Linked DNA regions of Homo sapiens: regions 1, 3 and 4 are each linked to region 2. Evidence: fine-mapped expression QTL. A gene starts in region 2. Each other region holds a variant in brackets. All regions are shown on one strand. Distances are from middle to middle.

What was found. PIP is the estimated chance that this variant, and not a neighbour inherited with it, causes the effect.
Region 1: its variant is fine-mapped to the expression of OGG1 in whole blood (TOPMed, PIP above 0.99).
Region 3: its variant is fine-mapped to the expression of OGG1 in skeletal muscle (GTEx, PIP above 0.99).
Region 4: its variant is fine-mapped to the expression of OGG1 in whole blood (TOPMed, PIP above 0.99).

The regions. Positions count from the first base shown.
Region 1 is chr3:9,824,485-9,829,861 of GRCh38, forward strand. ARPC4-TTLL3 (ARPC4-TTLL3 readthrough) reads left to right here. Exons shown (of 12, transcript NM_001198793.1): 9 at 1,316-1,464; 10 at 2,513-2,756; 11 at 4,476-4,911. It overlaps TTLL3 (tubulin tyrosine ligase like 3), which reads left to right. Exons shown (of 14, transcript NM_001387446.1): 9 at 1,316-1,464; 10 at 2,513-2,756; 11 at 4,476-4,911. Among named protein-coding and RNA genes, the nearest start is that of RPUSD3, 17 kb to the right of the region's middle. RefSeq lists silencers at 54-274, 2,835-2,904, 2,915-2,984 and enhancers at 866-1,366, 1,367-1,867, 2,701-3,201. The variant C/T (reference allele first, on the strand shown) is at 2,913.
Region 2 is chr3:9,747,366-9,752,742 of GRCh38, forward strand. OGG1 (8-oxoguanine DNA glycosylase) reads left to right here and starts at 2,587. Exons shown (of 7, transcript NM_002542.6): 1 at 2,587-3,058; 2 at 3,580-3,827; 3 at 4,405-4,584. The coding sequence starts at 2,922. It overlaps BRPF1 (bromodomain and PHD finger containing 1), which reads left to right. Exons shown (of 14, transcript NM_001003694.2): 14 at 1-650. RefSeq lists enhancers at 2,161-2,210, 2,241-2,360.
Region 3 is chr3:9,658,029-9,663,405 of GRCh38, forward strand. MTMR14 (myotubularin related protein 14) reads left to right here. Exons shown (of 19, transcript NM_001077525.3): 3 at 4,239-4,347. Among named protein-coding and RNA genes, the nearest start is that of MTMR14, 11 kb to the left of the region's middle. The variant C/T (reference allele first, on the strand shown) is at 2,508.
Region 4 is chr3:9,777,168-9,782,544 of GRCh38, forward strand. TADA3 (transcriptional adaptor 3) reads right to left here. Exons shown (of 9, transcript NM_006354.5): 9 at 2,800-3,382. The coding sequence ends at 3,190. It also overlaps a transcript of OGG1 not described here. Among named protein-coding and RNA genes, the nearest start is that of CAMK1, 9.9 kb to the left of the region's middle. RefSeq lists an enhancer at 978-1,272. The variant G/A (reference allele first, on the strand shown) is at 2,913.

The DNA of each region.
Region 1 (5,377 bases), 77 kb after region 2:
ACTACAACCTCCGCCTCCTGGCTTGAAGTGATTCTCCTGCCTCAACCTCCTGAGTAGCTGGGATTACAGGTGCCCACCACCACACCCGGCTAATTTTTGTATTTTTAGGAGAGATGGGGTTTCACCATATTGGCCAGGATGGTCTCAATCTCTTAACCTTGTGATCCGCCCACCTTGCCCTCCCAAAGTGCTGGGATTACAAGCGTGAGCCACTATGCCCGTCCCAGTTTACTTTTTCTTTTCTTTTCTTTTCTTTTTTTTTTTTTTTTTTTTTGAGACGGAATCTTGCTCTGTCGCCCAGGCTGGAGTGCAGTGGTACGATCTCGGCTCACTGCAACCTCCGCCTCCCTGGTTCAAGTGATTGTCCTGCCTCAGTCTCCCAAGTAGCTGGGATTACAGGCACCTGCCACCATGCCTGGCTAATTTTTGTATTTTTAGTAGAAACAAGGTTTTGCCATGTTGGCCAGGCTGTTCTCGAACTCCTGACCTCAGGTGATCCGCCTGCCTCCGCCTCCCAAAGTGCTGGGATTACAGGCAGGAGCCACCGTGCCTGGCCCAGTTTACATTTCTCTAAAATGGGACCAGAGCTGGGTGTGGTAGCTCATGCCTGCAATCCCAGCATTTTGGGAGGCTGAACAGGAGGATGGCCTGAGGCCAGGAGTTCAAGACTAGCCTGGGTAACATAATAAGACCCATCTCTGCAAAAAATAAAAATTAGCTTGGGTGTGGTGGCGTATGCCTGTAATTCCAACTACTTGGGAGGCTGAAACTTGGACCTAGGAGTTCCTGGCTGCACTGAGCCGTGATTTCACCACTGCACTTCAGCCTGGGTGACAGACCAAGACCCTGTCTCAAAAAAAAAAAAAAAAAGTCGGGGGGTAGGGGGTGGGTACTAGTAATACTTCCCTGGCAGGGCCTTGAGGGCATTCGTGAAAATATATGGAAAGCCCTTGTCACAATGCCTGGCACATAGTGGTGCTTTATCATTAGGAACTGGAATGATTAAATTCTGTCAAAGACAGTTTTAATGTAATAGGAAGGGGGTGGCACAGGTGGAGTGTTGGAGTAGGGGGTGGTTTGCAGTTAATGGAATTTTATCAGCCTTTCCCATTTGTGTAGTCTGGGCAGGTTAGGATTTCCGGGGTGGCTTGAAGGTGGGGCCGGAGGCTTGGGAGGGACCTATGGATATCTGCAGGGAGGGCGTGACCAAGGCTGCCTGGATGACGGCGGGGGATGGTGGAATATATCTCCCCCTGCCCTCTCCACCTGCATGTCCCAGGTCCAGCCCTGCCCAAGTTCTATCATTTCCCCACAGCGAAGGGGCAGAACTCAGGCACCTCGACACTCAGGTCCAGCGCTGTGAGGACATCCTGCAGCAGCTGCAGGCCGTGGTACCCCAGATAGACATGGAAGGGGATCGCAACATCTGGATCGTGAAGCCAGGAGCCAAGTCCCGCGGACGAGGTGGGGGTCAGCTCCTGCTTCCTGCACTGGCACCTCACCACCTGCATCTACCAGTAGAGGCCAAGGAAGTTAATAGTGCAGGTCTATTGAAGCCAAATTGCCTGGGTTTGAGTCCTAGCTCTGCTACTAATGTGCTTCGTGACCTTGAGCAGGTTTTAGCGCCTCCCTGAACCTCAGTTCCCTCATCTGTGACATGAGGAGGATGATAATACCTCCTGTGAGGTGAGGATTAAATGCAGTCATGCAGCTAAAGCACTATTCCAAATCCTCAACGTGCTTCAATTTATGCAATCCTGGGAAACGGAGGCACGTGTAGGCTTTCACATGATCCAGAAGGATATCCATAAGGTCCTGGAAGCAGCAGTTGGCTGCCTCTAGACAAGGAGATACATTTTTTATTGTATGCCCTTTCGTACTGCCTAATTTTTGTTTTGTTTTATAGTCTATTTATTATTGGTAGGAACGTAATAGGTGCACATACTTTAAAAAAGCCCCCAACACTGGCCAGGTACAGTGGCTCATGCTTGTAATCCCAGCAGTCTGGGAGGCCGAGGCGGGTGGATCACTTGAGGTCAGGAGTTGGAGACCAGCCTGGCCAACATGGTGAAACCCTGTCTCTACTAAAAATACAAAAATTGGCCACGTGTGGTGGCAGGCACCCATAATCCCAGCTACTCGGGAGGCTGAGGCAGGAGAATCACTTGAACCCGGGAGGCGGAGGTTGCAGTGAGCTGAGCTCGTGCCACTGCACTCCAGCCTAGGTGACAGGGCTGTCTCAAAAAAAAAAAAAAAAAAAAAAAGTCCAGCACTTTAAATTTGTATCCATGTATGTATTCCTGTTTAATCAAACAAAACTGGTTAATTAGGAAAAATTTAAAATCCTTAGCAAATTCCTGGCTTTCCCAAAGGGAACTGGGTTCTGATTGAGGGAGACAGCCTTACCCACTCAGCCCTATCAGCTCCGAGGGGACAAGAGCTCATGACAAGCTGGCCCTTCTCCTGGCCCACGCCTGACCTTCCAATCCCTGACTGCCCTCTTCCCCCGTAGGCATCATGTGCATGGACCACCTGGAGGAGATGCTGAAGCTGGTGAACGGCAACCCCGTGGTGATGAAGGACGGCAAGTGGGTGGTGCAGAAGTATATTGAGCGGCCCCTCCTCATCTTTGGCACCAAGTTTGACCTCAGACAGTGGTTCCTGGTAACTGACTGGAACCCACTTACCGTGTGGTTCTACCGCGACAGCTATATCCGCTTTTCCACGCAGCCCTTCTCCCTGAAGAACCTGGACAAGTGAGCCCCTCTGCTCGCCTCCCACGAGCTCCCTGCCTAGTTGGGGAGCTGGCAAGCAAACAGGCGATTACAGTGCAGGGGACTCGCGCAGCAGCGCTAGGCTCCACACACAGACTGCAGGCAGGCAGGCCCTCATCCTGCCAGCTGTCCTTGCAT[C/T]CAACAGATTTTTTTTTAACAGACAGGGGGCGGTCTCACTCTGTTACCTAGGCTGGAGTGCAGTGGCATGGTCACGGCTCACTGTAGCCTTGACTTCCTGTGCTCAAGCAATCCTTCCTCCTCAGCCTCCCAAGTGTCTGAGACCACAGGCATGTACCACAGCTGATTTTTAAGTTTTTTAATGTAGACATGGGGTCTCACTATGTTGCCCAGGTTGGTCTCAAACTCCTGGGCTCAAGCGATCATCCCACCTTGGCTTCCCAAAGTGCTGGGATTACACTATGCCTGGCCCCTCCAACAGATTTGACCGAGTGTGTACCTTGTGCCATGCACTGTTCTGGGCACTTGGGGTATAGCAGTGAACAAAACAAGATCCCAGCTCTCAAGGGCTTACATTCTAGCAGGGAGAAACAGGCAAGCAAGAACACAAGTGAAATTATCTAACAGGTTAAAAGATTATTTGGGCCAGGCGCAGTGGCTCATGCCTGTAATCCAAGCACTTTGGGAGGCCGAGGTGGGTGGATCACCTGAGGTCAGGAGTTCGAGACCAGCCTGACCAATATAGCGAAACCCCGTCTCTACTAAAAATATAAAAATTAGCCGGGCGTGTTGGCGGGCGCCAGTAGTCCCAGCTACTCGGGAGGCCGTGACAGGAGAATTGCTTGAACCTGGGAGGTGGAGGTTGCAGTGAACTGAGATCGTGCCATTGCACTCCAGCCTGGGTGACAGATCAAGGATCTGTCTCAAAAAAAAAAAAAAAAAAAAAGATTATATTTGTCGTTGGGGGAAAAAGGGAAGCAAATGTAGAGCAGGGGAAAGGAGGTCAGGAGTTTTGAAAACTAAGATGTCGTGTTAACTTCTAGGGTGAGAGAAAGCCTTGTTAAAGCCTGAATTCCAATTCTGTCTCTGCAGCTTCCAAGTTGTTTGAATCTGGTCATGTGAAAACCTATTTAAGCCTTGGTTTCCACATCTGAAGAATGGAGGCAGTAGTATGAAATTCATAGCTATCAATTATTGAGTGCTTCATATGTGATAGTGCTGAGCACTTTGTATACATGATCTCATTCTTAATAAGAACCCAGTGCATACTTCTTGTTCACCAGGTCTGAAGAAAAATATAAAAAACAGTGAAGTGGGTACTGTTACTACCCCCATTTTGCAGATGTGAAGAGCACACAGGTTAGATGACTTCCCTAAGGTCTCACAACTAGTGTGGAGATGGCGCTTGAACACGTCCTGGCGATGACGGGGCCATACCCTTACCCACCCTCTTATCTTCCAGACACTGGGATGGTTAACTGAGACTATGCACAAAGCACTTACTACTGCGGCCCCCGTAACTAGCGCCCTCAGAGCAGCCCTGAGAGATAAGAGTGGTTCTGGCCCTAGAAGAATGTGGTGGGGCCCAGGCCTCTGTCCTTTTTGTCCTTCCCAGTAGGGCCCCATCTCAAGTTGAATAGTGCAGGGTGGCCCAGGGCTGCTTCCAGGACTTGCCTGTCCTCCCTGAGTTTGGATGGGAGAGACACAAGGGCCTGGACCTCAGTTTTCTGTTCTCTGCCCCAGCTCAGTGCACCTGTGCAACAACTCCATCCAGAAGCACCTGGAGAACTCATGCCATCGGCATCCACTGCTTCCGCCAGACAACATGTGGTCTAGCCAGAGGTTCCAGGCCCACCTGCAGGAGATGGGTGCCCCAAATGCTTGGTCCACCATCATCGTGCCTGGCATGAAGGATGCTGTGATCCACGCACTTCAGACCTCCCAGGACACCGTGCAGTGTCGGAAGGCCAGCTTTGAGCTCTATGGCGCTGACTTCGTGTTCGGGGAGGACTTCCAGCCCTGGCTGATTGAGATCAACGCCAGCCCCACGATGGCACCCTCCACAGCAGTCACTGCCCGGCTCTGTGCTGGCGTGCAAGCTGACACCCTGCGCGTGGTCATTGACCGGATGCTGGACCGCAACTGTGACACAGGAGCCTTTGAGCTCATCTATAAGCAGGTGAGGAGGTTGGGCCCAGGCAGGACCCCAGAGAGTCTGCACCCTCTTCCAGGCAGCCCTGCAGTGGAGCATAGGACTCTGCAGTCAGACCCAGTTTAAGACCCAGATTCAAGTCCTGGTCCTGCTAAGGTGACCTCACTTCCTTGAGCCTCAGTTTCCTGATCTTTGAAATGGGGATATTATTACCATCTTTCTCATGGGAATGGGAGAATAAAATGAATTCATGTATGAGGATAATATTTCTAGAGAGGCATATAGCATAGCCATAAGAGCAGAGATTCTGGAATCTCCTTGGGTTCAAATTCCTGTTCAGTGACAACAAGCTATGTGACTTTGGACAAGTTCCTAACCCCTAGGTCTCCTTGTCCGTAAGAATAAAAATAGTACCTAACTCACAAAGTTAGGTACTATGAGTTGTGAGAATTAAATGAGTTGATAAGTAAAGTACTTCATTTATTTATTTTTG
Region 2 (5,377 bases):
CCAACCTATAGTGCCCTGTGACTTCTCTCCTCCCCTTTGCTCACTGTCCTGGAGTGGCACCGGCCTCTGCACTGACTCATTTCTGGTCTTGGGGCCAGTCTCAGGGGAAGCTGGGTGGGGGAGGTCCCTCCTGCCCTAAGTGCAGCTGGACTGTACAGAACACTCCAAGGGCCAATGGCAGTTCAGCGCAAGGAGAGGGAGGGCCCACAGGTCAGAAAAAGCTCCAGAGACCTCACAGCATTGTAGGGCGGGGTGGTGGGCCAAAGTTAGGACACTGCGTAAAACAGGCCATCCCACCACCTCTACCTGCTCATGCCAGGAGAATCCATAACTGCCTAGAGGCCTGGGGCCCCTACCGGTCGTGAGGTGAGTGGGCATCTGTCCAGCCTGGAAGAGGGGCACTAGGTGACTCCCTCCCCTGCTGTTGTAAATACTGTAATTATCGGAGAATTTAAATTATTCTCATTTGTAACTGCGTTTCCGGGTCGCGCCAGAGTCATTTGGTACTAAAAAAAAAAAAAAAAAAGACTGGGGGCTGTCCCCATTTCCCTTCTCTTTCCCATAGATTCCCCCACCTTTCAAACTGGTTTGTATTTATTTCAAAGGAAGAAAATATATTGATTCTTAGAAAATAAACTGTCAATTTAGAATTCTTTGTTCTTGCCCCCTGCCAGGGCAAAGGGGATACAAAGGGAGGTTCTGTGCCCCAGGGATGATACATAATTGGGCCCAAGTGGTTGCTGACTGCTGTGCATGCTACATTTCATAAGACACAGCAAAGAGAGCCCCTGTTGCCCATGCATGGAGTGAGTGGCAGGCCCTGTGTTGAGCACCTTTAGACATTCAGCTTTGCGTAATCCTTGCAATAACTATAGGGTAGTTTAATAATAGACTGGTTATCTCCACAAAGATGCTGAAGTTTCAAAAAATTATCTTGCCTAAGTTCCTACAACTAGGAAGGTGCAGAGCTAGAATTGGAACCCAGGTCTGTTTGCAAACCTGGCTCTTCAACCAGTATGCTGAACTGCCAGGGGAAGAGTCAACTATCGATTCCTACTTGGCCCTTAGAGGCCTCAAGTCCTTTGCCAGTGGCATGGCCCAAGTGTTTCAGCATCAATACAGCTGAGACCTTCCCCACTGCTTAACCGGAGACAGAGCTGGGATGGAGACGGTTGCTCTTTGCTCACCCCCAACCTCAGCACCTTCTTTCCAGACTCCACCGACATTTATTGAAGGAATGCCTTCCAAGTGCTAGGCGCCTGTGGGATGGCATGCCTACAGATAGGAACAGTCACAGGAAGAAGGGGCGGCCCAGGCCTTGCAGCCACTGAGGACTGGCACTGAGACAATGATGGCACTGGTCTGATGTTGATTCCATGCTGACGGTACACTCCGCTAGGTCTCTGGCTGGGACACAAGGGTCAATCCGCTGCAGATGTTGCTCTTCAAGAATTTGCAGTCTGGGCGGGGTGCGGTGGCTCACGCCTGTAATCCCAACACTTTAAGAGGCCGAGGCGGCTGGATCACGAGGTCAAGAGATCGAGACCATGCTAGCCAACATGGTGAAACCCCATCTCTACTAAAAATACAAAAATTAGCTGGGCGTGGTGGCGCGCACCTGTAGTCCCAGCTACTCGGGAGGCTGAGGCAGGAGAATCGCTTGAACCCGGGAGGCGGAGCTTGCAGTGAGCCGAGATCGCGCCATCACACTCCAGCCTAGGCGACAGAGTGAGACTCCGTCTCAAAGAAAAAAAACTTGCAGCCTGATAGTTAAGATACAGCAACCCCAAATCCCTATGCTAAAAGGTGAGAATGGCCCAGATAAAGGTCATGTCTCCTAGCTCCCTGCTTTTTCATGCCATCCTCCAGAAGGGAAGAAATTAAATAATCCATCCTCCTACTCCAGGCGACTAGAAGGCAGGCTGCCTCAGGGCCACACACTGGGACTTGGACTCAACCTGATGGGCTTCTGGGCCCAGCCCCAGACAAACCCCCGGCAAACGTCCCATTCCGAGGAAAGCATGAGCAGATGGAGTATGGAAGAAATGCCCAAGACGGCAGGCAGCAGCTGTGGCGGCCGGCGGGACGACAATCCGAGGAGAGGCCTCTGATGTCCTGAGGTCTCAGAGGACGCCTAAAGGCCTTGAATGGGACAAGCTTAGCGGGCGGGCGCAGAAGAGAATAATACTCTGGAGACACTTCCCGAGGGCTCTGGGGCCGGAGCTGTGTTCGCTCCGGTTCTTGGTGAAGACAGGGTTCGTGGGAGGCGGCCCAAGGAGGGCGAACGCCTAAGACTGCAAAGGCTCGGGGGAGAACGGCTCTCGGAGAACGGGCTGGGGAAGGACGTGGCTCTGAAGACGGACAGCCCTGAGGAACCGCGGGGCGCCCAGATGGAACTCGTTAGCGCCCCGAGTGCAGACAATCCCGGAGGGGGAAAGGCGAGCAGCTGGCAGAGAGCCCAGTGCCGGCCAACCGCGCGAGCGCCTCAGAACGGCCCGCCCACCCTGATTTCTCATTGGCGCCTCCTACCTCCTCCTCGGATTGGCTACCTCTAGGTGAAATGAGCGGTGGTTGAGCCCTACTTCCGGTGGTGCTGTGGTCTGCCCCTGGAGAACCCAGAAGAACACAGCTGTGCGCGCCCACAGGCTCTGGGGGCGGGAGAAGATAAGTCGCAAGGAGGGGGCGGGACCTACACCTCAGGAAAGCCGGAGAATTGGGGCACGAAGCGGGGCTTTGATGACCCGCAAAGGGCGAGGCATGCAGGAGGTGGAGGAATTAAGTGAAACAGGGAAGGTTGTTAAACAGCACCGTGTGGGCGAGGCCTTAAGGGTCGTGGTCCTTGTCTGGGCGGGGTCTTTGGGCGTCGACGAGGCCTGGTTCTGGGTAGGCGGGGCTACTACGGGGCGGTGCCTGCTGTGGAAATGCCTGCCCGCGCGCTTCTGCCCAGGCGCATGGGGCATCGTACTCTAGCCTCCACTCCTGCCCTGTGGGCCTCCATCCCGTGCCCTCGCTCTGAGCTGCGCCTGGACCTGGTTCTGCCTTCTGGACAATCTTTCCGGTGAGTGACTGAGCCTGAGAAGCCTGTCCCCTCGGACTGGCTCCTGCCGCCTCAACACTGCCTGGCATGGGGTACAAAGGAATTTGGGGGATGATGGAAGAAACCCGGGGTACAAAAGAGGAAACAAGCACGGGTAGCCAACCTGTTACCTTTAATATGTCTGTACAGTGATAATTGTAAGGATCCAGCGGTATAACCGATGCAGAAGATAATAGCACTTGTTTTTCTTTTTTTGAGACAGGGTCTCGCTCTGTTGCCCAGGTAGGAATGCAGAGAGGCCCATTCCAGCCTCGACCCCCCGGGCGCAGCCTCCCGAGTAGCTGGGACTACAGGTGTGCGCCATGCCCGGTTAAATTTTTGTATTTTTTGTAGAGGTGAGGTTTCGCCATGTTGCTCAGACTGGAAGATAGCACTGTTACTTGTATTAGTTTCGTACATGGAGCTATTGTAGGATAGGAGGGACCCCAAAGGGTGCAAGAAAGGAAATTGAGTGCCAGGGTTGTCATGTGCCTTGGGCTCAGGTGGAGGGAGCAAAGTCCTGCACACTGGAGTGGTGTACTAGCGGATCAAGTATGGACACTGACTCAGACTGAGGAGCAGCTCCACTGCACTGTGTACCGAGGAGACAAGAGCCAGGCTAGCAGGCCCACACCAGACGAGCTGGAGGCCGTGCGCAAGTACTTCCAGCTAGATGTTACCCTGGCTCAACTGTATCACCACTGGGGTTCCGTGGACTCCCACTTCCAAGAGGTGGCTCAGAAATTCCAAGGTGAGTACAGGACCTGGGCTGGGGTTAGGGTTCTTGGACATAAGTCACTTCTCTATGACTCAGTTTTGCCACCTGTAAAATGGGGATTATATCTACTTCATAGGCTTTTATGAGGATTTAAGGAACTAATACATGTAAAGTGCTTAGAATAATGCCAGGCACATAGTAAGTATTATTACCATTATTATTATCCTGCTAATCACCATAGTGAAGTGACAAGGATTTTGAGCCCATTCCTGGTTGTGTGACCTAGGGCAAGTGATTTCATTCATTCTGTAAATATATACAAAGCATCTGCTGTGTGACCGGGGATACACCAGTGAACAAAACAGACCCAAATGCCAGTCCTCATGGAGCTTACATTGTGGCCTCTTTATCTGTGGAATGGGATGGTAACTCAGCCCTCACAAGATGCTATGAGGAATGAGAGGTCTGGTGTTGCTTTCTCTAACGGTGCTGACTCTCATTCTCCTGGGATCCTCCTGGAGTTTTGGTACCTAGGATCTGACCTGTGGGTGGGAAGAGGCCACACCCAACAGCAGGTACCTCTCCTACCCCCTGCATTTCTGGTCTCCAGGTGTGCGACTGCTGCGACAAGACCCCATCGAATGCCTTTTCTCTTTTATCTGTTCCTCCAACAACAACATCGCCCGCATCACTGGCATGGTGGAGCGGCTGTGCCAGGCTTTTGGACCTCGGCTCATCCAGCTTGATGATGTCACCTACCATGGCTTCCCCAGCCTGCAGGCCCTGGCTGGTGAGTAGGTGGGTCCCCTGCCCCCAGGCCTTCCATCAGCTTTCAAGATCTGTTCATTTCTCCCCTGGTTACCTTCTCAAGGCTTCCTGCCTTCCCAAACACTTCCCCTATCCAGAACCGCCCTGCCTGGTCTGATCAACTCCAGTTACTCATCCTCCCTATGCATCCCTAAAATGTCAGCACCTCACTGGTCTGTGCTTTTTGCCCAATGGGTTCAATGCCTAATCAGAAAAATATCTGTATACAATGTACAGTAGTTTGGGGTTAAGAGCATGCATTCTGGGGACAGACCCATGCCTGGTTCTGAACCCCAACTCTCACTTGGGCACATTATTTAGCATCTCTGTACTAAAGTTTCTTCATCTGTGAAGTAGAATAATAATAGCACCTACCTATGCTATTATTGGAGTTGTCATGAGGGTTGAAGAAAGGAATATACATACTGCACCTAGCACAGTGTTTGGCACACAGGAAGTATATGTAAAATTCAAGCTGGTATCAGCCAGGCGCAGTGGCTCACACCTGGCTAACACAGTGAAACCCCGTCTCCAGCCTGGGCAACAGAGCGAGACTCTGTCTCAAAAAAAAAAAAAAAAAAAAAAATTCAAGCTGGTATCATTGTAGTGAATGGGATAGTTTTGTATCTAAGAACACGTGTGTTCTTCACAGTAGCCCTGTAAGGCAAATGTTTTACAGAGGCAAGTGTATCGATTGGCAGATGTGAGAACCAAGCTAGGACAAGTGCTTGGGAACTGCATAGCAAAGAGACAGACTGCCTCAAAACAGGAGAATG
Region 3 (5,377 bases), 89 kb before region 2:
AAGGCCACTGTGGAACATGATTAACCTTAGAGGAGCTTGTTGGAGTTTGTTTTTACTTTTCACTCCTTGCAAGGCCTTAAAGTGTTACTGAAGTGATGTTGAGTGGGTGATGCCTGCTTGTTGAAAGGGGGGACTTCGGGTATGTTTGGGTGGGAAGAAATAGCATTTTTTGCTTTTTTACTGTCTGGCTTGGCTGTTACTATGATGCTGAATTAAACTGAATAGACTGAATAAAAAATAGACTGAATTAAACAGGGTAGAATTGGATTTAAGCAATGTTTTGGTCCTGTTAAGGAACCTCTCCAATTTGGTTCATCATCTGGGAATAGAAGCCTGGACAGGGATCTCTGAATAGCTAAGACATGTTTGTCAACAGTGTTCGTTCAGCTGCTGCTGTGTAGTAGACCTCAGGGATCAAGTTGGAAGCCAGATAGATGAAGTCCTTACCAGTAGGTCTAGTGGGAAACAGAGTCCAATAAAGAAGCAATAATTGTTAATAAAAGCTGGAATTAGGGGAAGTACAGGTGAGGCCCTGCCGGATAGTGGTTAAAACCATGGGCCCAGTGGCTACCCACAGGGTTTAGAATCTCAGCTACCCTGTTTACCTGTTCTGTGACTTTGGGCTAGAGATTTCATCTCATTAAACTACCTCATCTGTAAAATTGGGTAAGTGAGGACTGAGTGAGATAATGTGGGTGTAAGCTCTACTTTGTGCCTCTTATCTATTAAATAGTAGCAGCAGTAACATTTATCTCAGGAAGTTGTGGGGTACATTATAGGAACAAGCCACCCAGTTTGGTAAGTGTGGTGCCTGTCTGGGAAAGCTTCCTATTGGAAATATGTGATAACAGCATTTTCTTCTGTATTTGAAAATAGTTTGGCTGGGCATGGTGGCTCACGCCTATAATCCTAGTTACTTGGGAGGCCGAGATGGGCGTTTCGCTTGAACCCAGGAGTTTGAGACTGAATTAAACTGAATAGACTGAATAAAAAACAGACTGAATTAAACAGTCTGGGCAACATGGTGACACCTTGTCACTACAAAAAATACAAAGCATTAGCCAAGCATCGTGGCATGTGCCTGTAGTCCCAGCTACCTGGGAGTCTGAGGTGGGAGGATCACCTGAGCCCAGGAGGTCAGCTGCAGTGAACCATGGCGCCACTGCACTGCAGCCTGGGCAACAGAGGAAGACCTTGTTGGGAAAAAAACAACAAAATCTCACTACCTGGTAACATCTTGCCAGAAATTTCAGTGCATACATTACAAATGTAAATACAGAAGCCTACATTCATCCCTTCGAATGTGAGTATTATGTGCCAGACACAGCTCAGTGCTTAGCACTGCAATAAAAGAATCCTAAGGACAAGAGATAATAAAAACAGGAAAAAGTGAGAGAACAGAAACTGAATTGGTTCTTTTTTTTTTTTTTTTTAAGACGGAGTCTCATTCTGTTGCCCAGGCTGGAGTGCAGTGGCGTGATCTCTGCTCACCGCAACCTCCGCCTCCTGGGTTCAAGCAATTCTCCTGCCTCAGCCTCCCGAGTAGCTGGGATTAGAGGCGCGTGCTGCCACGCCTGTCTAATTTTTGTAGTTTTAGTATAGACGGGGTTTCACCATGTTGGCCAGGCTGGTCTTTACCTCCTGACCTCAGGTGATCTGCCGCCTGAGCCTCCCCAAGTGTGGGATTACAGGCATGAGCCACTGTGCCTGGCCAGAAACTGAATTGGAGCTTGATGTAGGGGAACCGGTAAAGGAACCACTGGCCGACCTAACAAGAAAAGGTGGGTCATTACATTAAAAGATCCTCCCTAGAGGAAAATGCTGATGTGTCCTCCACCAGGGGTGTTTTGTTTGTTTGTTTTTAACAGAAGTTTAGCCTGAGAAATCCACCTTGGTTTTGAGGCTACAACTCAACCTGGGAAAATCAGATGTAGGCATTTAGGGTTCAGAGGGCTGGTATGAGCTAAGTGAGAGTCGGTTGCAGCAGATGGTGCTGACCAGATATGTGACATCGGCCACGGGCCAAGTAAGTGGGAGGAAGGCCACTGTGGCAGTACTAAAGGTGCTCGGTTTTATATTCTTGTGGAGTCTAGTTAGGCAATTAATTGGTACCAAGGTGCCTTTTGATTTCATAGAGAAACTGGGTGAGGGGAAGGCAGCACACTCTGGTTCTCTGTGAGCTTGTGTGCCTAGGGCTGCCTGGTGGGTTGCTGCCACCCTACGGGCACTTTGCTTTTTTTTTTTTCCCCCAGACGGAGTCTCGCCCTTCGCCCAGGCTGGAGTGCAATGGCGTGATGTTGGCTCACTGCAAACTCTGCCTCCCGGGTTCAAGCAGTTCTCCTGCCTCAGCCTCCTGAGTAGCTGGGATTACAGGCACGCGCCACCACGCCAGGCTAATTTTTTTGTATTTTTAGTAGAGATGGGGTTTCACCATGTTGGCCAGGCTGGTTTTGAACTCCCAACCTCAAGTGATCTGCCCACCTTGGCCTCCCAAAGTGCTAGGATTA[C/T]AGGTGTGAGCCACCACGCCTGGCCCCTAGATATATTTTAACTAAGAATTCGCAGTATTTTAAAGACTGTGTTTTTATTAACCCTAACAGCATCCAGATACATTTAAAGAGGTACCACAAGTATGTGGGAGTCACTGATTTCTTCCTTCTGGGATAATATTTGGGTGCATGTGTACAAGAGGAGCTGTACGCAGATTCCTAGAAGGATTAGGATGTGGAAGCAATTAAATTCCCTCTAGGAGTTGGTCTGAAAGCTCAACACTTTTAAGGAAGGAACATGAGTATTTTTCCTTCCTTCTACTTGGTTACTCTGTGTAGCTGGGAAAGCTTCCTGCTCTAACTTTCCTGCCTCCTGTTTCTGTTGCTACCAGAAGCTCTGACTGGCTGGGGTGAGCTTTGCTAAAGGTTGGTAGGTGAGTTTATGAGAGCGGACCCTTATTTTAGGGAAGCGTGATTTGATATGGGTATGACTTGCTGGAGCTAACTTCTAAACCTCACTCTCAAGTTCTAGAAGCTCACTTACCAAGCCCAGTGCATTAACTACTACACGTCCCTGTGTCACACATGGCTTCTCTTATGCCTCCTTTGCTCTGTGCGCTGTTGGCCATATGGACTGTGAAAGCAGAGGCCTAGAGCCATGTGGACCAAGAAACGTCATCTCATTCTGCCCTCTAAAACAGCACTCCCCAACCTTTTTGGCACCAGGGACTGGTTTCATGGAAAACAATTTTTCCACGGCAGGGTGGAGAAAATGGTTTCAGATGAAACTGTTCCACCTCAGATCATGAGGCATTAGATTCTCTGCAACCCCAGTCCCTCACATGCGGAGTTCACAATAGGGTTCGAGCTCCTATGAGAATATAATGCCGCCACTGATGATCTGACAGGAGGTGGAAGTCAGACGGTAATGCTCACTTGCCTGCTGCTCACCTCCTGGTTCCTAATGGGGCATGGACTCGTACTGATCTGGGGCTCAGGGCCTGGGGACTGCTTGCTCTAAAAGATCACAAAAATACATATTCAGAGTTATGCAAAAAATAGATAGTCACAAAAATGGTCCTGTGATTTCCAGAGAGGGTCCCTAGGGCACCAGGTCTTATCCTGGGAGTTAAAAATTGGACACCCTAGACATAATATCCAGTTTTCTGTGTATATTTCTGAATTTTGTATATGTCTTCAGTTTAGCTCACTTTTTTTTTATCTTAAAGGTTCAGAAATCAGAGTGATTTAAGTTTTAATACCTATAATTAGCACTTTTTTTTTTTCCTGAAAAACTTAATATATCTCATGCCTGTGATCCCGGCACTTTGGGAGGCCGAGGTGGGCGGATCGCCTGAGGTCAGGAGTTTGAGGCCAGCCTGGCCAACGTGGTGAAACCCCGTCTCTACCAAAAATAAAAAAATTACCCAGGTGTGGTGGCTCACACCTGTAGTCACAGCATACTCGGGAGGCTGAGACAGGAGAATTGCTTGAACCCGGGAGGCAGAGGCTGTGGTGAGCCAAGATTGCGCCACTGCACTCTAGCCTGGGCAACAACAGTGAAACTCCGTCTCAAAAAAATAGATAGATAGACAGACAGATGATAGATGATATAAAATTTAGGAATGACATTTAATTTCAAGCAAGCATTATGTACACAGATCTAGTATGGGGGTCTGTGTGAATAAACACATATACACAAAGTGCCCACTTCAAAGTCAGCTTGACCTGCTTCTCTTGCCTGTGTGTTAGGTTTGAGAGTACCGTACAGGTGAGCAAGTTGCAAGACCTCATCCACCGCAGCAAGATGGCCCGGTGCAGAGGACGGTTTGTCTGCCCAGTAATCCTGTTCAAGGGCAAGGTAAGGCCCATACCATAGCTTCATGCTCCACGACTCTCTTCTGGGGTAGCTGACTTACTGCAAAGTATAGGGTCTTTTTTTCCCTCAACATTAGTAGCCAAGCATTGGGTGGTTACTGGGTGTTGTGGGAAGCAGTCCAGAGAAACAGACCAATTCTGACTGAAGGATGGTTCTAGGTAGAGAAGGGATGGTCACACCAGCATACCCCACCCCGTGTTCCAGAGCCAGACTGCCTAGGTTCAGATCCTGACTCTTATTTCCTGCCTATGCAGAGCCTCCTTTTCCTCTCCTATAAATTAAGAATAATAATCACCTATTTCAAAGGTTTGTGGATTAGATTAAATCAAATGAGTTCCTATATTGTTTTTCCATTCTTTCAATTATATAATTCACCAAGTATTTATTGTATATTATGTGCCAGACACTGCTTCAGGCCTTAAAATACATCACCATGTAAAGCAGACAAAAATCTTTATTGTCATGGAGCTTATATTCTAAGGACTTTTGTTAATTTAATTTGGCTCCCCAGTTTGGTTTCATTTTTATCTATCTTTTGGTGTACGGGATGTGCCCATTTCATTGCAGATGAAACAGAGGCTGAGAGTGACTAAGTAACTTCCCTAAGTAGAGGGTACACATCAGGGCAGAGGATGGAGGGGATTGAATGAAGACGGCTGAACGCTGAGCAGGGAGGTGGCTCTGTGTTTGCTAGGAGAGCCATTGTGACGTTTGAGCGGGGAAATTCCGAATGCAAGTAGCAACGGTGCGAAAATTGGTCCAAGAAGAGTGGACTGACATACAGAGAGCCTCAGAGGGGAAGGGAGCGGAATTCAGTCTATTCATTCCTTTAGCTGGTATCTGAGTGTCTCAGTGGTCAAGGGCAGGGCAATGGGGAGAGTCTGACTGTTGTCTCAGTCCCTGGTGTGCCTTTTTTGTAAATTGGGAAAGAGGAGGAAGGAAGGGAGACTCTGCCAAAAGCTTTCTTCTTCAGATCAGTTTTAGGGAAAAGTATGTATGGAAGTTAGGTCCT
Region 4 (5,377 bases), 30 kb after region 2:
AAGGCATTTGGAACTCTGGGGAGACCATGATGTGCAAGACAGATGCTTTCTAGGGCCAAGACACAAAAGGCTTTGCCTCCAAACTAGTGATAAGGAATCAGAATTGTTTTGAATTAAATTTGGAGACTTGAGGTACTGGAACTAATCCGCCCTCCTCATGACAACCCAGCTTCCTCCACACTCATAAAGGAGGCATCTTTTGGCTCCAGCAGACACTGATATGATTGTAAGAACTCTGCCAGGGATGGTGCTACCTGGGGGCAGCAACTATTCCTGCATCAAGGCTGCATGGCCTCAGCAAGGCACAGCATCTCTTTGAGTCTCTGTGTCATCTGCAGGCTGGAATATTACTCTCCTTGGAGGTGCATGGTAAGCATCAGATAGGAGGGGTGGGTAAAGGGCCTGGCACAGTGCCAGGCAGATAGTAGGTATGCAACAGAGAACAGCTAGAGTGCTCATGACTGATCCTTGAAAGTTAAGTTTCTTCTCTGGTGAACCAGGCCCAGTCGGTCTTCTAGGGTTCTTCTTTCTATTTATATCTGTCTTCCTTCTTTCACAATTCCATCCAATTTTGGGATGTCAGCTCTCATCCCACCTCCTCCACAAAACTGTCTCTGTTCTTGGAACTCTCTACCAACAACGCCCACCATACTTATGGTGTGGCCCAGTGAACATGGAAGTGAGTGGTTAAGAGGAGGGGGGTCTTCAAGCAGAGCTGCCATATATGGCTGCACAGGTTGGGCACTGCCCAAGTATAGGGAGTACCATTCACATACACTGTAATGGGAGTGGGGCCCCAGTGAGTTGTAATGAAGAGGCTCTCTCTGTAAGCCAAATGGCCTGAGTTTGAATGTTGGCTCAACCACTCAATTGCTTGACAAAGCAAGGTATGTAACCTCCTAAGCCTCAGTTTCCTCATCTGTAAATGGGATGTTATTATGGGGTAGCTGATACCTACCCCATAATATTAGGTAGTTGAATGAGTTCAGAACAATGCCTGGTGCATACTAACATTTACTGAGCCCTTCATTGCATTATCATTATGATTAGAGTTGGTTTCTCATCATTGCATGTGTGGGTGTCTTTTCTCTCTGAGAAGGCTGTGAGCAACCTGGGGACAATGAGTCACTGAGAAATTGCAGCAGCTTGGCCCAGCACCTAGTGGGAGGCAGGGCCTCATGCTGTCCTCTCTCTCAGGATCCTACTTCATCTTTCTTTTTGCCAAAATTCACTTGTAATAGGCCTTTTTTAGTTACAAATCACAAAACTCTAAAGCAAACTAGTTTAAGCCAAAAGAAGCCTTTGTGGGCTGATATATGTGGGAAGTCTAAGGGAGGATCCGGTGGCTTCAAGAATAGCTGGATGCAGCACTTCTCCATCTCCTGGCTCTGCTTTTCTGAGCTGGCTTTATTCTCAAGCAGGTTTTTCCCCATGGGAGGAGAGCAGGTCACTGGGGTAGACTGAGTTTATAGTCTATGGCTTATGGTCCAACAAGAAGTGGAACTCTCCTCTCAGCATCCACAGAGCAATCTTATGGAGGGCCTCGAGTGACCCAGCTTGGGTTACATGCCTGCTTCTGGGACTAATCATTGTGGCTAGAGGGATTGGCACTTGACTGGCCAAGCTGGGGTCATGTGTGCACCCTAGTTTGGCAGTTGGACAAGAACCATGTGTGATGGGGAAGGAACATTTCTCCAACAGAGAGGTGCTGGGTATACGAGAATGTTGGCCATGTTCGCCCTCCTTCTTTATGGCTCAGTTCATAGGTCACTTCCTTAGGGAATCTTACCCTCCCTTCTCTCCTGCGTGGACCTCAACCTTCCCACAGTAAATTGCAAATTATTCCCTGATTCTCTCAGACCAGTCTGGGAACAACTTGAGGCAGGTACCAGAGCATATTTATTCATCTGTGTCCCTTAGGCCAAGCTTCCTGCCCCAGCTGTGGAAGAGACGTTGTCGGTGGTCTATCTAGCACTCACTTCCCTGTTTCCTACTCAGATCTTGTTGGGTTTTACTCTCTCTCCACCACCTTGATGGAGTAGCAAACTCCACTCTGACTGGCATAAAGCCATTACAGTCTCCTTTGCCACAGTGACTGAGGAATGGGCATGTGAGACTGAGTTTGGGCCACTGAAACATGATGGTATCTGGGAAAAGGCTTCTTGCTTCTGTAGATGGGCCATGGAAGCCCGCTGGCTCCGGCTCCCTCCTGTGCTGGATGTAAATGAGGAAGCATCTGGCCCCAACTGCTCCACTGCCACACTACAGCCAGAGAAGGACTCACCTTAGGCAGAGGTCGACACTGTGGAGGGCAGTGTGGTGACCCCTAAGAAACCTGGACCCTTGGGGGAGGGGGGAGGGAAAGCATTAGGAGATATACCTAATGTAAATGACGAGTTAATGGGTGCAGCACACCAACATGGCACATGTATACATATGTAACAAACCTGCACGTTGTACACATGTACCCTAGAACTTAAATTAAAAAAAAAAGAAACCTGGACCCTTGATGACCCTGAAGAATTGCTAGATTGGCTAACCGTGAAGGCCACTCTGTCCCAGGACTGCCCATCCTGCAGCCAACACATTTCCTTACTGTGAATCCACTTTGAGCTGGGGGGGCATTGTTACGTGCAGCCACAAGTATCCTCAGAAAGAGGTACTCAGAAAGTTCTCCCTGACTGAATGCCATGGGTTAGTGGCCATGGGCTGAGAGCCACCAAGCATACCCCCCACAAACCTTACCACCCACACTGGTTCCTTCCTCCCCACTGTAACAGACATTCAAAGACTGGATGCTTTTTTTGAAAAACCACAGCAGTCACTTTATTCTTAAGTTTGCACTTTACAAAACCACAAGGGAGAAGTCCTTGAAGGGGAGACAGGGGTAGGGGATTAGGGAGTGGGGGATG[G/A]TAAAGAGGGGAAGAGGAAGACCCAGAAACGAAGTCCCCTCCAACCCCATCTCGGGGACCAAGCAGAGACTAGGCCTCAGGCTAGCCCAGCAGGGCTTCCTGTGTCCTGGTTGTACAGAGCTAGGCCAAAAGACCTCAGGGGAAGGGCCACGGCCCTCTAGAGACTGCCGCCATTTGAGGGACAGCCACAGGCCAATGTTTCCTGTGCCCAAAGAAGGAAGTGGGCCTCCCTTCCCCTCCCCTAGGCCAGATAATCAGCCTGAGGCAGGGGTGAGGGCTACCCATCCAGCAGCTTCAGGATGCTCTCACGCTCCTTCAGAGTCTTCCAGGCCTGGTCCTTTTCTTTCTTGGTGGGAGTCCGCTTCTTCTGCCGGGCAGCCATGATCTTGCGAAAGGCGTCCATGACCTCGTTGTCAGCCATGCGCACCCGCTGCCTCAGCTCCTGCCGGCTCACCTCCTCCTTTGCCAGCCTGTGGGGACCAGCCAGCCAGGTGCCAGGGTCAGCCCACCTCCAGAGAACAACCCCTCCCTCTTCAAGACCGAGCCTACCCACCAGCCCAGGCTGGCATGCCTGTGGATTGTGTCATACAGTCGTGACCAAAAAGCAGTTACTGACCTACACTTACATGGCACTATCTTAAGCTCCTGAAAAATATTAACTCATGTTGATCACGGGGGAGGCTGTGCACATGTGGGGACAGGGAGATACGGGAATTCTCTGTACCTTTCTCTCAATTTTGTTGTGAACTTAAAACTGCTCTAGAAGAATAAAGTCTTGGCTGCACATGGGGGTTCACATCTGCAGTCCCAGCACTTTGGGAGCCCAAGGCAGAAGGATCACTTGAGCCCAGGAGTTCGAGACCAGTCTGAGCAACATAGTGAGACTGTCTCTACAAAAAATTTAAAAAATTAGCTGGGTGTGGTAGTGCACACCTGTAGTCCCAACTCCAAGGGAGCTGAGGATTGCTTGAGGCCAGGAGTTCAAGGTTACAGTGAACTATGATCATGCCACTACACTCCAGTCTGGGCAACAGAGCGTGACTGTGTCTTCAAAAAAAAAAAGGTCTTAAAAATATACACAGTAGGCTGGGCAAAGTAGCTCATGCCTGTAATCCCAGCGCTTTGGGAGATGGAGGCAGGAAGATCACTTGAAGCCAGGAGTTGAGACCAACCTCGGCAACAGAGTAAGACCCTGTCTCTAAAATATATATATATATACATACACACACACAAACACACACACACAGGCACACCCACTCTCTCTCTCTGTCTTTCAGTTAATCCTAACAACCCTGCAAAATATGTACTATTATTCATATGTTACCCGTGAGGAAAATGAGGCTCAAAGATGATCCCAGGATCCCACAGTTAGTGAGGGGGAGATCTGGAGCAGGCTGGGGCCAAACTCTTGTTTTTAAACACTGTTGTTTCAGGTGTTCCGGTGCCAGCAGAAGGCCTGCTTACGTCGGCATCTGCATTCCAGAGCCCCCTAAGGTCTAGGCAGCCTGAGGCTGACAGGAGGTGGGTGAGACACCAGATCAATCTCTCTGAACAGGGTCTGATTTATACATTTCATCGATGGTGGAGCTGGAAGGTCACTTAGTGATTGAGTCCAGCCTGCCAGTTTTCCAGAAGGGGAAGGAGATGCTCAGGTCAGGGGCTGCTTAAGGCCTTGCAGCTGCTCTGCAGCAGGGTAAGGGCTGTGCTCTGGTTTCCTGAGAGCTGCAAGCCATTTCTTCATTGCCCATTACTTCTTTTTTTTTTTTTTTTTTTTTTTTTGAGACAGGTCTCACTCTGTCACCCAGGCTGGAGTACAGTGGCCTGATCAAGCTCACTGCAGCCTCTACCTCCCAGGATCAAGCAATCCTCCCACATCAGCCTCCTGAGTAGGACTATAGGCATGTGCCACCATGCCTAGCTGATTTTTAAAAATTTTTAGTAGAGAAGGGGGTCTGACTACATTGCCCAGGCTAGTTTCGAACTCCTGAGCTCAAACAAGCCTCCCACCTCAGTCTCCCAAAGTGCTGGGATTACAGGCATGAGCCACCAGGCCCAGCTAGGGCCCACTACTTCTGTAACTGCACATGCCTGCTTTTCTCTCTCTTCCTCTCTCTCCCTCTGCTTCCCTCAGTGCCTCTTCCATCTGTGTTTTCTTCTTCTCACCTTTCAGAGAAAACAAACTATTATAGAAAGAGGCTTTGATTCAACCACAGGTTCAAGTCTCAGCTTGCTGTTTATTGACTGTGTGACCTTCAGCAGAGCATTTCGCTTCACTGGGCCTTTATTTCCTCATCTGGTAAACAACGAAAATAGCTCCTCCCTCCTGGGTTGTTGTCAAGACACTTGAGAGAGTGTACATAAAGCCCCTGACACACAGTAGGCCCTCAGCATACATTAGTCACTCTTATCCTTAAATACCCTGGCAGCTTGTCAGCAACTACCTCTCCTTTTAATGGCACTTATCT